Regions from separate parts of the Homo sapiens genome. Here region 2 is linked to region 1. A link means that fine-mapping ties the variant in region 1 to the expression of a gene that starts in the linked region. Tissue or cell type: whole blood. Region 1 holds a variant in brackets; the other region holds the start of a gene. All regions are shown on one strand. Distances are from middle to middle.

Region 1 (8,109 bases):
ATATTTTTTGAAGCCTTGGGACTAGAAGCCAAGCCAGGAACTTGCCACCGACTTCCCTATCAGAACCTGTAGATTTGGTTGAATTCCACTCCTCTCAAAGTCTTCAAATATGGTGAGGTTCCAGAGCTTGCCCAGAAGTGACCTTTCTTATCTTGTAGGCTAGGAACTCTGTAACCAATTACCAGGTTGGTTTTTCCATGAAGGCTTTATAAGTATTGCCCCCACGGTCAACTTTAGTTCTTAATGCTACCTGGTTATATCTGATTCTATGGAAATCATTCTTAAACATATTTGATATTTCAGACAAGACTTGGTTATAAAACCACTTTCCACTTATGTTCTATGCAAATGCATTTTTACTAAACTGCAGAAATTTCTCTATTGTCATAAAAATCTTTATAAAATCTTAAATGTCCAGTGAGTATATCACAGCTCAATTACTACATTAGGAAATCCAATAAGTATACAAATCAAGTGTATTCCCTTTTTTCGTGTTTTTTGTTTGTTTGTTTGTTTGTTTGTTTGTTTTTTCTGACAGAGTCACCCTCTGTCATCCAGGCTGGATTGCAGTGGTGTGAGCTCAGCTCACTGCAGCCTCTGCCACCTGGGATCAAAAAATTGTCCTGCCTCAACCACCTGTGTAGCTAGGATTACAGGTGTGCACCACATTTCCTGGCTGACTTTTGTATTTCTAGTAAGGATGGCATTTCAACATCTTGGCCATGCTGGTCTGGTCTCCTGACTTCAGATGATCCACCTGCCTTGGTTTCCCAAAGTGCAGGGATTACAGGCGTTAGCCACCATGCCTGGCCCGCAAATGTATTCTTGCAGTTAATAATAACAATAACTTGTAATCTGTGGCTGTGTGCAATAAACTATTTTAAACTAATCTCATTTACTAAACATTTTCATGAGTCATGTGAACTTGATTGTCTATTTCTAGGATTTTTAGGAGTATGTAATTCACAATAATGCTCATTTATCTCTTAGCCAATTTGGATAGCACCCTTTTAAGTGATATTAAAAATTAACTTGGTACTAACATCCAGAGGTAGAAATATATCACACACAGTTCATCTATATGCTAAAAATATAGATAAAGGCAAGCAGATTTTATAGCCCTGACAAAATTTACCCATGAATAAAGCAATAGAGTAATATAAAACTCACTGGCTTATATCCATTTTATATTTTATCTAAATTGTGCTTCTAGCAAATGAGACAAGATTACCGATTCTATAGGAGACCTAATACCTAGCTGGAATTACAGGTGTGCACCACTATGCCAAGCTAAATTTTTGTATTCTTAGCAGAGACAGGGTTTCAGCATGTTGTCCAGGCTGGTCTTGAACTCCCGACTGCAAGTGATCCACCCACCTCAACCTCCCAAAGTGCTGGGATTACAGGCGTGAGCCACCATACCTAGCCCTAATAACCTGTTTTAGAGCTCACTCTAAAAATCACATTTGATTTTTTTGTTGTTTGATCTGTTTTGCTGGTGAGAGTCTCTTGAATTTTTCACTTCAGCCAATGTGTTTCTTAGTTCCAGGATTTTTTAAATTATTTCATTTTTAAAAATTTCTCTCAGAAGTTTATTAGTTCCTTTTCTGTCATTTTAGAGATCTGAATTTCCTGAAAACCGCCATTTTGAATTCTTGATTAGAGAACTCACTGATAGCCATCACATTATTTAGCACTGGTCAATGGTTTAGTGCTTTGTCCATTTGGGAAGATTATGATTCCTTGTTCGGTATTATTTCTAGTGGTTATACATCTATATCTTTTTATTGAAGGACTAGTTATTCAGTTCATTCTTTTCTCTGTATTATTTTGTGTTTTACTGAATATATTTGCGTTGAGGTTTTTTTAGACACACCTATGGTGGGTTTTTGTTTGCTTGCTTTCAGCTACGTCAGTTCCTTTGTTTTGACAGTAGATGGTGCCTTAAGCCAAGGTTTGCCTCAGCTCTAGCAAGCTTAGGATTGCTGCCAGTCCCCTATCAGAGAGATCCTGAAGGGGCTATGCTAACAGTGAGGGAAGGCTGGCTATAAGTTTGTGCCTAGGGAAATTATGAAATATACCTCCTACCTCATGGTACTGCTGCACAGGCACTCTGGTTTGGCATCTCCTATGGCTAAGATATCAAGGCTGGAGGTGGTAGTCCTGCCTTTCTGCCTTGTCCCTGGTTGTCCTCAGGAATTCTTCTTCTTTCAGGCATTCACAAGGCTTCCTGTGGGTTAAGACAGGAACAGGTTTCCTGCCAGGAAATCAAAAGTGGCTTGTGTTGTCCACTTCAACTTTATTTAATCCAGTGTAGTAAGCATGAGACAGAGGATTTTTTTTTTTTTTTACACTTCGTTGCCAGCAGACTAGGGGAAGAGTGTCATGAATATAAAAGCCAAACTTTCTTATCATCTGCCTGGTTTCTTCACTTCTCTGTCACCCTAGGAGCTGCCTCATCCTCATATTTGAGCTCTGAGTTATTGCTGGTGATAACCTATGCAATGTATATCGGTTTTTGGTTTCCTGTATGTGTTCTTGGGGGGAGGGGGAGCTAGGGTTGGTGGGGAAACATGCCAGCTTCCTTTACTATGTCATTTTTTTGTAAAAGTACTCTTCTCTAGTTTGCACTTTTTCTACTTCCTTGTGTGTGAATTGATAATTTTACATTTCTTCTTTATGTGTCTATGTTTGCAACTATATATTTCTCAGTATTGATTTTGCTGCATCCCAGAAGTTTCAATATGCTTTAATTTTCCATTTATCTGCAAGGATTCTTTAATTTCTTGCAGATTCTTCAATTAGCCATAGGTTGTTGAAGAGTGTATTGTTTAGTTTCCAAATATTATACATTTTTCAGTTTTTAGAAAATGGGGCTCAGGCGGTCACAGTGGCTCGTGCGTGTAATCCCAGCACTTTGGGAGGCTGAGGGGGATGGATCACTTGAGGTCAGGAGTTCAAGACCAGACTGATCAATATGGTGAAACTCCATCTCTACTAAAATTATAAAAATTAGCCAGGTGTGGTGGTGGGCACCTGTAGTCTCAGCTACTTGGGAGGCTGAGGCAGTAGAATCACTTGAACATGGAAGGCAGAGGTTGCAGTGAGCTGACATTGTGCCACTGCAGTCCAGCCTGCGTGACAGAGCAAAACTCCGTCTCAAAAAAAAAGAGGGGGGGCAGTCTCTAGTTTTATTCCACTGTGGTTGGAAAAAGCATTATGTGTGATTTCAATAGTTTTAAATATGAGACTTGCTTTGTGGCCTACCGTGAAGACTATTCTGGACCTATAAACCCTTTAGAAGAATATTTAATCCACTTGTGGAGTGGAGTGTTTTGTATATGTCTAATAGCCTCATTTGGTTTATAATGCTGTTTAAGACATTTGTTTTCTTATTGAACCTCTGTTTGGTTGTTTCATCCACTGTTGAAAGTGGGATGTTGAAATCACCAACTATTATTGCAGAACTGTCCAC[C/T]TCTTCAAATCTGTTTGTCTTTGTTTCATATATCCTGCGGATCTTTTATTAGGTAAATATGTAAGGATAATATCTTTTTGATGAATTAAACATTCTTGATATTTGCATAGTACCTCTAGCTCTATTTTGGTTACTGTTTGAATTAATTTTCCCGTCCCTTTTAAAACATGTAAAAAGTCATTCTGTCAATCTTTGACTTTTAACTGGAGTTTAATTTATCTGCATTTAAGGTAATTACTGATAAGAAAGATTTTGCTATTTTTGTCCTTGTTTTCTACAAATTTGTTGTTGTTGTGGTTGTTATTCAATTCCTCCAAAAACTGCTCATTTTTACATTTGATTGTTTTTCTAGGGTACCATTTTGACTGTCTCATTTCTCTTTAGTATATTTTAACAGTTATTTTCTTAGTGGTCATTAAGGGTATTATAACTAATATCTTAAATTTATAATAATATAGTGTGAATTATAACAACTGTTTACATTATATAAAAATATTTTCCCATACTGCTGTCCCTCCATTCCTACGTTTTGTCAAAAATTGCTTCTTATTCAATATGTGCTAACAGCACAGATATATAATTCTTGTCTTATTATATGTCATTTCTTTATTTTATTATTTTATTTTACTTTACTGAGACATGGTTTCAATCATGCAGGCTAAACATGGTTCACTACAGCCTTGAGCTCCTGGCCTCAAGGGATCCTCCCACTTCCACCTCCCTTGTAGCTGGGGCTAGAGGTTCATGCCACCATACCTGGCTAATTTTATTTTCTGTAGAGACAGGGTCACACTTTGTTGCCCCGGCTGGTCTCAAACTCCTGGGCTCAACCAAACCTCCCACCTTGGTTGGGATTACAGATGTGAAATACTGTGCCTTACCACTTTTTAAATCTAGTAGAAAAATAAAGTCACAGAAACCCCCAAATACAATGGTATTGGCTTTTCTATTTCCTGGTGTAATTACTTTATTGATGTTATTTATTTATTTATTTGCACATGGGTTACTGTGTATTGTTCTTACATTCCTTACTTCATCATATTTTGTAAGGCCAATCTAATAGTGATGTACTCTCTTTAATTGTTTGCTTGGAAATGCCTTACTCATAAATTGAGAAATTGAGTTCGGTTTTGCCAGATATTGAGTTTATGACTGATTTATGTTTTCTTTCAGCCCTCTAAATATGTCACCCCAGTGACTTCTTTCCTCCATAAATTTTAATGAGAAATTGGCTGTTAATGTCATTGAGGATAACTTGCATGTGATCAGTTACTTCTGTCTTGCTTCTTTTAAAGTTCTCTATTAATTTATCTTTTGTCAATTTCAGTGTATGTGTTCCAGTGTAGATATCTTTGAGGTTATTCTTCTAGGAGTATTTTTTTTCTTCTGGGATTCTTGAATAAGTAAATTTGTATCTATCAGCACATTTGGGAAGTTTCAGCCATTGCTTCTTCAAATTATTTTTTTTATCTCTGTGTCTCCTTTTCCTGTGGGGCTCCCATTATGAATATGTTGATATACTTGATGTTGTTCCATGGCTACCTTAGTTTTATTCATTTTTCTTGTTTTTCTCTTCTTGTACCTTCCTTAGACTGAATAGCAAACAATCCGTCTTCAAGTTCCTTGATTATCCTTCCTGCATGCTCATGCATACTCTTCAGTCTTTCTAGTTACAGGGTATGAATTTCATTTTTAAAAATAATTTGTAGGTCTTTATTGGTATTTTCCATTTTTGAAACACTGTTGTCCTGGCTTCTCTTAGGTATTTGAGAACATTGAAGTCAAGTAAATTAAAATATTTGCCTAGTAAATACCACGGCTGGGATTCCTGAAGTACAGTTTCTTTTCATTATTTTCCCGTTGAGGGTGCCATTTTTTTGTCCTTTTGAATGCCTTGTATTTTATTGTTGAACAGTGAACACTTTAGAAATCATTCAGCATATCCAGAAAACATATTCCTGCCCTCCACAATTGCTTAGTTTTGGGGGTCATTTACTTGTTTTGCAACCCTCTAAAGCTATTTTTGTATCCTGTATTCTTTGTCATGTATGGACACTTAACCTGTGTTCTGTCACTCTGTTTGCCATCTACAGTTTTTGACAAATTTTTAGAAAACACTCCAAGCAAAGAAAAGGAAAAGGAGAAAAGAAAGAAAAGAAAAACTGCCCAGACTTTGCAGATTGACTCTTTGAGGAACTCCAGTGTTTAGCCCAAAGTCAGGGAAAAGTGAAAGCTTCAGGAGCTTCTCTGTGCATACATCCAATACTGGAAATATTTATAACCTTCTAAATATACCAGTAGGAGGCTGGGCATGGTGGTTCATACCTGTAATGCCAGCACTTTGGGAGGCTGAGGTGAACAAGTCACTTGAGCCCAGAAGTTTGAGACCAGTTTTGACAACATGGCAAGATCTCATCTCTATAAAACATACGAAAATAAGCTGTGTGTGGTGACCCATGCCTGCACTGTGGGAGGCTGAGGTGGGAGGATCACAGAATCCAGAAAGGTTGAGCTGCTGAGGAAACTGAGGTGGGAAAATCACTTGAGCCCAGGGAGGTCGAGGCTGTAGTGAGCCAGGATCATGCCTCATGACTCCAACCTGGGCCACAGGGCAAGGCTCTGTCTCTATTTAAAAACAAAACCAAAGCAAACAACAACAACAAACTGTGAGAGTTTTTCAAAGCTGATTTTCCACAGCAATTTCCTTCCCCAACCTCTTCCTTCCAGGCATTTTCTTTGTGTACTTCTTGACCTGAGTGCCAGGTGGCTCTCACTAGTATATTTCCCTTCCACAAAGGCCTCCTGGGAGTTGACTTCTTACCCCAAGAAAGCTATGAGGTGGGCTAAAGAATCTGAGCTAATAATCTTCAAGATAACTTCAGAGAGTTCAAATCATACAATCATTATTATTATTACTATTATTATTATTATTTGAGACAGAGTCTCAATCTGTTGCACAGGCTGGAGTGCAGTGACAGAATCTCGGTTCAGTGCAAACTCCACCTCCCGGGTTCAAGTGATTCTCCTGCCTCAGCCTCCCCAGTAGCTGGGACTACAGGCTTCTGCTGCCAGGCCCAGCTAATTATTGTAGTTTTAGTAGAGACAGGGTTTCGCCATGACAACCACAATTCTTTGAGATAAGCTCCATATTTTTCCCACATGCATCAAAAGCTGCACCTAGAACTTCGTCTTCTTCACTGTTGCCATGAAGTCATGGAGTGGGTGATAATGGACAGTTAAAATACCACATACTGGCTGGGCATAATGGCTCACGCCTGTCATCCCAGCACTTTGGGAGGCCGAGGCAGGTGTATCACCAGGTAAGGAGGCTGAGACTATCCTGGCTAACACGGTGAAACCCTGTCTCTACTAAAAATACAAAAAATTAGCCAGGCATTGTGGCACGCACCTGTAGTCCAGCTATTCGGGAGGCTGAGGCAGGAGAATCGCTTGAACCCAGGAGGCAGAGGTTGTAGTAAGCCGAGATTGCACCACTACACTCCAGCCTGGGTGACAGAGGGAGAGTCTGTCTCAGAAAAAAAGAAAGAAGACGACGAAGAAAAAAAAAGACACACACTGTCTTGCCTAAACTCAGGGGTAAGGTCTTCTTTAACCACTCCCGTGAGTTATGTTATTAGACTCCAGAGCTCCAAGAGTCAAGTCTGAGGTTTTTTTCTCTGCCTAATACCCCTTAACTTTTAACCCAATTAAATGTAATGACAGCATAAAATATAAACTTGCTTAAATTTACCTTGCTTTTTAATGTTTAGGCGGCGTTCAGCCTGTTTAGTAAGATTTCATACAAGGCTGCGTCCATCATTATTATGAGAGCCATTCTCTCTTTCATTTAATAACGAATAGTTGGCTGGTCACAGTGGCTCATGCTTGTAATCCCAGCCCTTTGGGAGGCTGAGGCGGGTGGATCACAAGGATGAAGACCATCCTTGCTAATACAGTGAAGCCTTGTCTCTACCAAAAATACAAAAAATCAGCCGAGCGTGGTGGCGCATGCCTGCAATCCCAGCTACTCAGGAGGCTGAGGCAGGAGAATGGCTTGAACCGGGGAAGCTGGGAGGCAGAGGTTGCGGTGAGCCTAGATCACACCATTGCATTATAGCCTGGACATCAAGAGTGAAACTCCTTCTCAAAAAAAAAAAAAAAGAAAAGAAAAGAAAAGAAAAAATAATGATACAGGGAGATAATAAATAAGTAAATAAGTGTTTTACGAAGCTGTAAAATCTAAAGTAAAGGTAAAGATGGTCATAGATAGGAGCAGGAAAAATTACACAAATCCACATGAGCTTAATTTTTGGTGGTGATTTCTCATCAGAAAAAAAAACATAAAAGAAAGTATGAATAAGAAAATTGTCCACATTGCTTTGGTAGAAAAAAGTAGGAGGAAAAACAAAAACAACAAAATAATGAGAATTATACAATATTAAGCTTTAGTGTTCTTCATTTATCATGGTGATTGTTTCCCCAAGAAATAACAGAAGCAAAATAGTCAAAATAGAAGGACACATAGGCATATATTACTGTCTACGTATATCAAGCCAAGTTTAATTTTAATTCATTCTTTCAGAAATTTTATTTTAAATTAACAATTGTAAAGATTTATGGGACACAAAGTGATT
Region 2 (8,108 bases), 49 kb after region 1:
AGAACTAAAGTAACAGTAACAGCTAAGAAACCAACAAAGGCCATAATAGGAAATTAAAAAAATAAATAAATAATAGAAAAGAAGACAGATAAGAGAAAATGGAACAAGTAACACATGGAGAAAACAGAAAGCTACATCAATCAGCACATTAACTGTAAATGGCTTATATACCACAACTAAAAGGTAAAGCCTATAAGAGAAATAAAAATAGTAAAATCCAGTTATATGTTGTCTCCTGGAAACCCATACTTGACATAAAGACACAATTACTACGGAAGAGATGGAATAAAGCTGTGCACTACTAACCCTAGTGATAAGACTGCTGGAATGGCTATATTAATATCAGACAAAGTAGAGCAAAAAAAATGGAAAATATCAACTGATGCTCAAGTTGTTCTGGTTAGCAGTACAAACTCTGGAACCAGACTTTCTGAGTTACAATACTGTCACTTCTATTTTTTTCTTTTAACTATAAAATAAATGTCCACATTGCTAACAAGCATATTAACTAGCTTATTATGCTTGCTTCCTTTGCTTTTGGTTGTGGTGGGTATTTATTTGTTTATTTTTTAAGACATGATCTGCCCTTGTCACCCAGGTTGGAGTGCAGTGGCGTGACCTAGACTCACTGAAGCCTCAACCTCCAGGACTCAAATGATCCTCCTGCCTTAGCCTCCCAAGTAGCTGGGACCACAGGTGCATGCCACCATGTACACTAATTTTTGTGTTTTTTGAGGAGATGGGGTTTGACCATCTTCCTGGTCTCAAACTCATGAGCTAAAGTGATCCACCTGCCTCAGCCTTCCAGTGTTGGGATTACAAGCATGAGCTACCACACTGCCAGAATCCTGTCATTTCCTTGAATTGCAAAATTAAAACCTCATAAGCTACAGTTTCCACATCTGTACAATGATAACATCATTAGAATCTTCCTGGGGAGATAGCAGTGTAGAGAAAATAATACATCGGCAGCAGGAAGAAGAGTTCGTGGTACACAGTGAAGTTTGGAAAGGTGTTCCTATTGACATCATTATAATCATGACCACCATCATCATTTCTTAGAAACACAGAATTGACAGGACTCACTGATTAAGAGTATTTGACAGTGAAATATGAGAGAAGAGATTGCCTTGGTCAATTCTTGAGTATCCATCTGGTAGAGCTTGGAAAAGTGGTGGAAGCAGAATTTTTGGGAAAAACATTTAAAATAAACTTAAACACCTTACTTTTGATCTGCGTGATGTACAGAACTGGTGATGAACAGGGCAACCTTGTCACTTTAAAATATATCTGATTGCCAATTTGCAGCATCACAAGACTAGTAAACATTTACTGTGAAACATTCAGAAAATACAAATTACCAAAAGAATAGAGTTTACCTATTGCTTAGTTTTCTCCAGCAATGGAGAGATCAATAATAATAAATCTGACACCAATTCAAAATATGAAACTTTAGGGTACTCAAGTACTAAAAGGTTTTTTTTTTTTAATGTAAACAAACTCACAGGTAACAGTGTCCAAAGTAGAACATTAGAAATGAGAGATTCTTGATGTAACAACAGGTCCAGGTGATGATAATTCAAGGCTGCTGAAACAAGTGAATGAAATCTTGAAGGGATCTTAATGATGAGAACTAATTCTTGCTTGTTGGAGTGATGAGACAAATGGTCCAAAAATTAAAAAACAAAACAAAACAACAACAACAACAAAATAATTTGTTGCTTGCAAATAGGCCCTAGAAGCAATATGAAACAGTCTTCAAATGAATAGATGAGAAAAATCGCATCTGACCTAATTAATTCAATGTCACAAAAAGAGAGACAATGTGTTATTTAAAGGGATGAGACAGAAAAAACACTCTTGTAAATAAAGAGAGAAGAGTACAATGAAGTACCCATTTCCACCTACGAGGAACGGGCATGTAAGAAAATACGGGAATCATGTGCAGATGATATAATTACTTATCTAGAGGCACCATAAAAATGTTTTTCCCCAAATAATGTCCATTAGGGATAAAATTTTAAGAAAGAAAGGATGTTACTTTTAAAGACAATTGTTAAATACCTAGTAAATAGAGTAAGTGAGTAAGAAAAGCAGAAAGAAAATAAGTTGCAGCTACCAGATACCCACAAAAAGAAAGAAAAGGGAAAAAGAAGGAATGGAGGGAGAGAGCACAAATGGAAAGAAAAAGGGTGGGAAGGAGGAGGGAGAGTAGAGAGAGAAATTACAGAAGTAGGCGAGGGGTATAAAGGAAAGCATGGAAAGACAACTGCAGAGACATCAGAGTTTCTGGGCCTCAGGATAGGGGAAAAATACATCCAACATTATAAGAAATATATCCCACTCTCTCCCCAGCAATCCATACATCGAATATGATATTAATGCAGATTGCACCTTTCTGGCTGCCCCAACCACTTCCTTCTCCTTTGGACTCACAGAAGGACCTCTATAATTTATTTCTGGAAAACACTTATGAAAATATGCACATATGAAAAGGGCCACAGAGTTTAGAAATGGGTCTTCCAGAGTCTAAAATTCAAGGTAGAAAGTGAAAGTGAAGTCACTGAACAATGGAATTTAGGCATGTGTTTGTGATTAAGTGAACTTGTTTCTTGTACTCACATAGCCAGTGCATCACTGCATCTGAATAACAAAAAATATGGTAGATTTCTGCCCCTTTGAGATTTCACTTAAATACGAAGCACTTTCTCCTTCTGATGTTTAAAAACATGCTGAAATTTGTAATATATTAGTAACAACCACTGTCCCACCCAAATGCTAAGCAGCTGCTTCTCTTCTCTGAAAATCAGAATCAAGAGAGGGAGTTTCTAGGCTCAAGACTCGGGAAAAGCCACCCCTGATATCCAGAGATTTATGTTAAGATCCCCAGCTGAGACAGGCAGAGGTCAAGGTAGGCTGAAGAAGCTGATCTGAGATGGTCGAGGGCTGCTCCTACTTACCTTGCCTATTTGCCACCCTCACAGTTTTGAAACTCGTTCAAAAAGTAAATGCTTTTGTTCACCTCTTTAACAGCACCATTTCTGGTCTCGTTTTCAACACTACGTCCTTTGCTTTGCAGGTAAAATTGCTTATTTTCTTGCCTTTTTATGACTAAAGTAGGCTTGCAGTTTGGAGTCAGGTGACTGCACTAGCTGAGTCATCTTCCCTTGAAAACACCAAGGCATTCTTCCTCCCTACAGAGTCACACATCTTAGTTCCCCAAAACGCTCAGCCACAATTTGACTTCGATTGTCCTACATTTAAGGTGATATTTTTCTGATTCTCCCATTAACTCCCTCTTCTCTTCGCACCCATGGCCCATCTTTTGCTGCTGTCTAGTAGCCATTCATCCCCTCCCATCACAAAAGAAGTCTGTACTTCCTTCAGACAGAGCAACAAGAAAATTCCCCAGAAAGCAAACAATTAAACAAATTTTAATTTTGCCTTTTTTAAATGAAAATTCTGTCAAAATTGATGAACCACATCTGGTAGGAGCACCTGTTTTATTTTCACAAAGAGTTTTCTGATCTGGACATTTTTGTTACTTACTGCTAATATGGAAAATTTTGAACTAAACAAAATACACCCCCAAAACTTAAACTATGTTAAACCAAGACAAGCTTCTAACAATGACACCTCTTTCCAGTATGAGAGAACTGCCTCCTACAGTATAAGAAATATCAAAATCATTATTTTTTTATTCCACACATATTCAACACTTAAAGCCAAGGCATTAGAATTTTAATATACCACCTCTCAAGCATGAACATATAAAAATTCTTACTGTAAATGGGGCATGATTATTTTTCAAAGAGAAGAAATATTTTATTCAATTCTAAGATTAATTCACAAATTTGACTCCTGTTTTATAATGATAACTTTACGTTGCAGGACACAGAGATTATTCCTTAAGAAATATTTTTTAAATAGATATTTGGCTCTTGGAACCAAATAATAAAATTTTCTGCTTAGACATACATACAAATTTACTTTACTTAAAACACTTTCTTGTTATTATTACATTTTTAAATCTCCCACTCTTTGGGATCTCCTTATAAGTAGGTCACTTGCTTTTAAAATCTTACATAATTAACATGTCAGATATTTACAGACATACCAAATGAAAGTATTATTTATTCTATGATATGAATAAAAAATGTTTTGAATAGATACATACATGAATAACTTTTTATTCTGAAATCTAATCAGTTTTATTCATATTTGATTTTATTTTAATTTTTTAAGGTATGTTTCACATAATACAAAATTACATTATTCAAAATTATATTATTAAAACATTTCTATCATCAAACAGGAAACCCCATTATCTACTTAACAGTTCTTTCTATTCCCCAGCCCCTGACAACCATTAACCTACCTTTTGTCTATATGGCCATGTCTTTTTACCATATATGTTTTACACTGCATCAGTTTTCAATCCAACATGCCAAGCTGAGAGAGTTTTTAAAATATTTATTTTTATTTTTTTGCACCGTCCAATTACCAGGCCCTATGCTCCTCGCACCAATCTAGTAAGACTGTGTGTGTCAAGGAGAAAATTATGTTTATTTCAGGGATTGAGGATATTAATTAATTTATTTATTTATTTATTTATTTATTTATTTATTATTTTCTTAAGACAGAGTCTTGCTCTGTTGCCCAGGCTGGAGTGCAGTGGCACAATCTCAGCTCACTGCAGCTTCCGCCTCCTGGGTTCAAACGATTCTTCTGCCTCAGCCTCCCGAGACCTGGGACTACAGGCACATGGACCACACCTGGCTAATTTTTGTATTTTTAGTAGAGACAGGGTGTCACCATGGTGGTCAGGCTGGTCTCGAACTCATGACCTCATGATCCGCCTGTCCCGGCCTCCCAAAGCGCTGGGATTGCAGGCATGAGCCACCATGCCTGGCCCTCCTTATTAATTTAAAAGATTCTGCAGGCATGAAACTTTTGCAGAATAAACTGTGTAAGTAATCATTCTATATTTTATTTTTACCAGATACATTTCTGAGACTGGAAAGTAAACAGTCTTGGCCAAATTTTTATGTTTGTTGCTAGGTGACCAAAGTCCTCTTGTGATGCCATTGCTACTCAGGTTGGAAACCACTGTGGTGATCTCAATTACTTTACCTGAGTAGACTACTGAAGCAGCATTTGAAGCTGCAGTCTTGAAACACATGCAGGCTGGAAAAGTCGCTAAAGAATTACTTATTTGAGATGGCACATGTTTCTGCAGAAACTCAAGATGTTTCTCCTAAAGATGAATCAACTGGTTCAAAAGCCTCCTCTGGGTCTCCATTGTGTGAACACATAATCCCTGGGGATTCAGACTTAAGGTCAATGACTGAATCAATGATTTTCAGGTTTTGCCACAAGGATCCTTGATAAAAAGGCCACATTATACTTTATGTCTCTGAGCCAGATAAAGATAATGATTTTCCTTCTCTGACCTTTCCCAGTAAACTTTGGAAAATAGCTGAAAGTGACCAATTCAAGTCTAATTCATAGGATAAGAATGAAACTTGCATAGTGACTAATGAAGAACTCTTCAAGAAAGAAAATTTGGAAATAAAGGCTCCTTACAGAATATTTCAAACTGACAGTATGAAAATCTTAATTTGACAGCTCAACCTTTATGGATTTAGTAAAATTCAACAGAATTTTCACAGATCTGCTTTTCTAGCCAACTTTCTGGCAGAAGAAAAAGAAATTTCTGTTTTAAGCAAGGTATTCAAAATATTTCAGTTACCACTTTGAGTATATATGTAATTTCATTTTATATATCAGTAACTATGTTAATACATGCAGTAAGATCAGATTTTAAAAATTATATCAAATATTAAGGTAAAAATTACTTAATTTTTTTGAAATTATTGAGTGCAGGTTGAGCATTAAACTTTCAGGTTTTAAGAAATGTTGCTAACAACATTCAGTCTTACCAGTGAACTCCAAATAAAGATACCAAAGCCACTTAGTGAAATGTTACTATTAAATGTATAACATGTTTTCACCAGAGGGCTTCAAAACTTGAGTGTTTTTTTTTCTCAACAAGCATGTTCTTAAAAATAGTAAACAATGTTCATTCATTATTTGATGATATTAACTTTGTGTGATAAAACAGAAATCTGAGATTGTATGGGTTATGTTTGTTATTGTTACTTGCCTCTTGGTTTAAAATGGCACTGAATTACCTTCTCCTTGGTTTTAGTTAAAGTTGTATTATCATCCGAATTTCAAACGTGGCTGTCCCCAACTTTTAATAAGAACGAAAAGAAGAATTAAGATTAAAAACACTTCTCTTGTATCTACTTCACTGAATATTTCAAGAAACACTTTAGAGCAGGGGCTAACACAGATAAACATAATTCTGTCTTAGCTGCTGAAACTAGTGAAGAAAGTTCATTTTCAACATCTACAAATTTAAATATGACTCTAACAAGGAAATCTTCTGTCAGCCAGGGCATTGCTGGTTCACCTGACCCAATTAGAAGTGGTTTCCCTCCTCTTCCATTTCAACCTCAGTTGGACAATCAGAACAAATTACAACAAATCAACATGCTATTTTAAATCAATTGACAAATATTCATATGCACTCTCATAGCACCGACATGTAAGCAAATGGCCACGTTGTGAATTTTGTTACAACCACAGCTTCTCAATACTACATCATATCTCCCTCCTTTGGGGCTGATAGTGAAACCACCTACTTTTTCCCACCAGATATCCTGAGGTATTAGCCAATGAGGCTCCTCATTCTAACCTGCTACCAGCAGGCAACCTGTGGTTGTAAATGACTGCGACAGCTGATACATCAGTTGCCTTTCGTTACAGGCCAGCTCTTCAACCATCTTTACTGGAAAAATATCACCCTAGTTACAACTGATCTTCCACCAAAAGAGTACCAGATTATGCATGACAACAGAGACTGAAATTTATGTTGACAAGAACATTAAAAATTCCTGCAATAATCTTACTGAACAATAAAATTACATGTTGACCTTTATGGTTGCTTTTCCTTTATTTCTAAAAATACAGTTAGGAGTAAAATGGGGCTTTGTTTTAGTGGCAGGCTACTGTACCGCATTTAAAAAAAAATATGTGCTTTTTTATCATTTGATGGGAAATTTGACATGGCCCTTTGTAAGCTAGTTTATTTAATTATCTAAAGAGGAAGAAATAATAGAGTGTTTTAGTCCATTTGCTGCTGCGACAACACAATACCACTGACTGGGTAATTTGTAAGGTGACTTATTTTGCTCATTATTCTGAAGGCTGGAAAGTCCAAGGGGCTGCATCTGGTGAGATCTTCTTTCTATGTTGCAACATGGCAGGAGGCCATCCTACGGTAAAGGACATGTGATAAACAGAAAATCAGGGCCAAACTCATCCTTGGTTCCAAAGCCCACTCACACAATAACTAGCCTGTTCGCCAGATAATGCTATCAATCCCGCCATGAGGGTGCACACTCACGATTTTATGGTTTCTAAGTCCACAGTCAACGTTGGCTAATTCACATACATATGTTTATATATCAAAACCATGGCAGCAGGCAAGGGAAAAAGAAGGAATTGGAGTTAGAAAAGAGTAATAACTGACTTCTCAAGTAGTCTGGCATAAATCAAATGAGGGCCTAAATTACAATGGCACAAAAAGAATAGATATGCACACACACACGCACACACAGAAAATCTAGAGAAACATTAACACACACTATATACTTCAGTATTTTCTCACTTTTTCTCAGTTATTTTAAACTTGGATTTTAGTTGGCAAAGATTTTCTTCATTACAATTCATACCTAGCGAGCTCAGTAACCATGATCACAATTATTTGTGTCCTCACTTGCGCAATAAACTTCACATATTTTACTCATGGATTGTATCACTGTAGGCACATGGTAGAATTTTATAGCTGGCATTATCAATAGACCTTTTTGATCTTCCATCAAAGCTTGTGGCTTTAATTACTTCCTGTAAGAGTCCACCTTTCATGTTTTCTAATGCACATTTTCCTTCTTTTCTTTTGAGACAGAGTCTTGCTGTGTTGCCCAGGTTGGAGTGCAGTGGCATAATCTCAGCTCACTGCATCCTCAACCTCTGAGTTC

What was found. PIP is the estimated chance that this variant, and not a neighbour inherited with it, causes the effect.
Region 2: it holds the start of XKR3, and the variant in region 1 is fine-mapped to the expression of XKR3 in whole blood (TOPMed, PIP above 0.99).

The regions. Positions count from the first base shown.
Region 1 is chr22:16,772,833-16,780,941 of GRCh38, forward strand. No RefSeq gene overlaps it. Among named protein-coding and RNA genes, the nearest start is that of LINC01665, 28 kb to the left of the region's middle. The variant C/T (reference allele first, on the strand shown) is at 3,476.
Region 2 is chr22:16,822,331-16,830,438 of GRCh38, forward strand. XKR3 (XK related 3) reads right to left here and starts at 3,081. Exons shown (of 4, transcript NM_001386955.1): 1 at 2,961-3,081. It also overlaps the pseudogene HSFY1P1.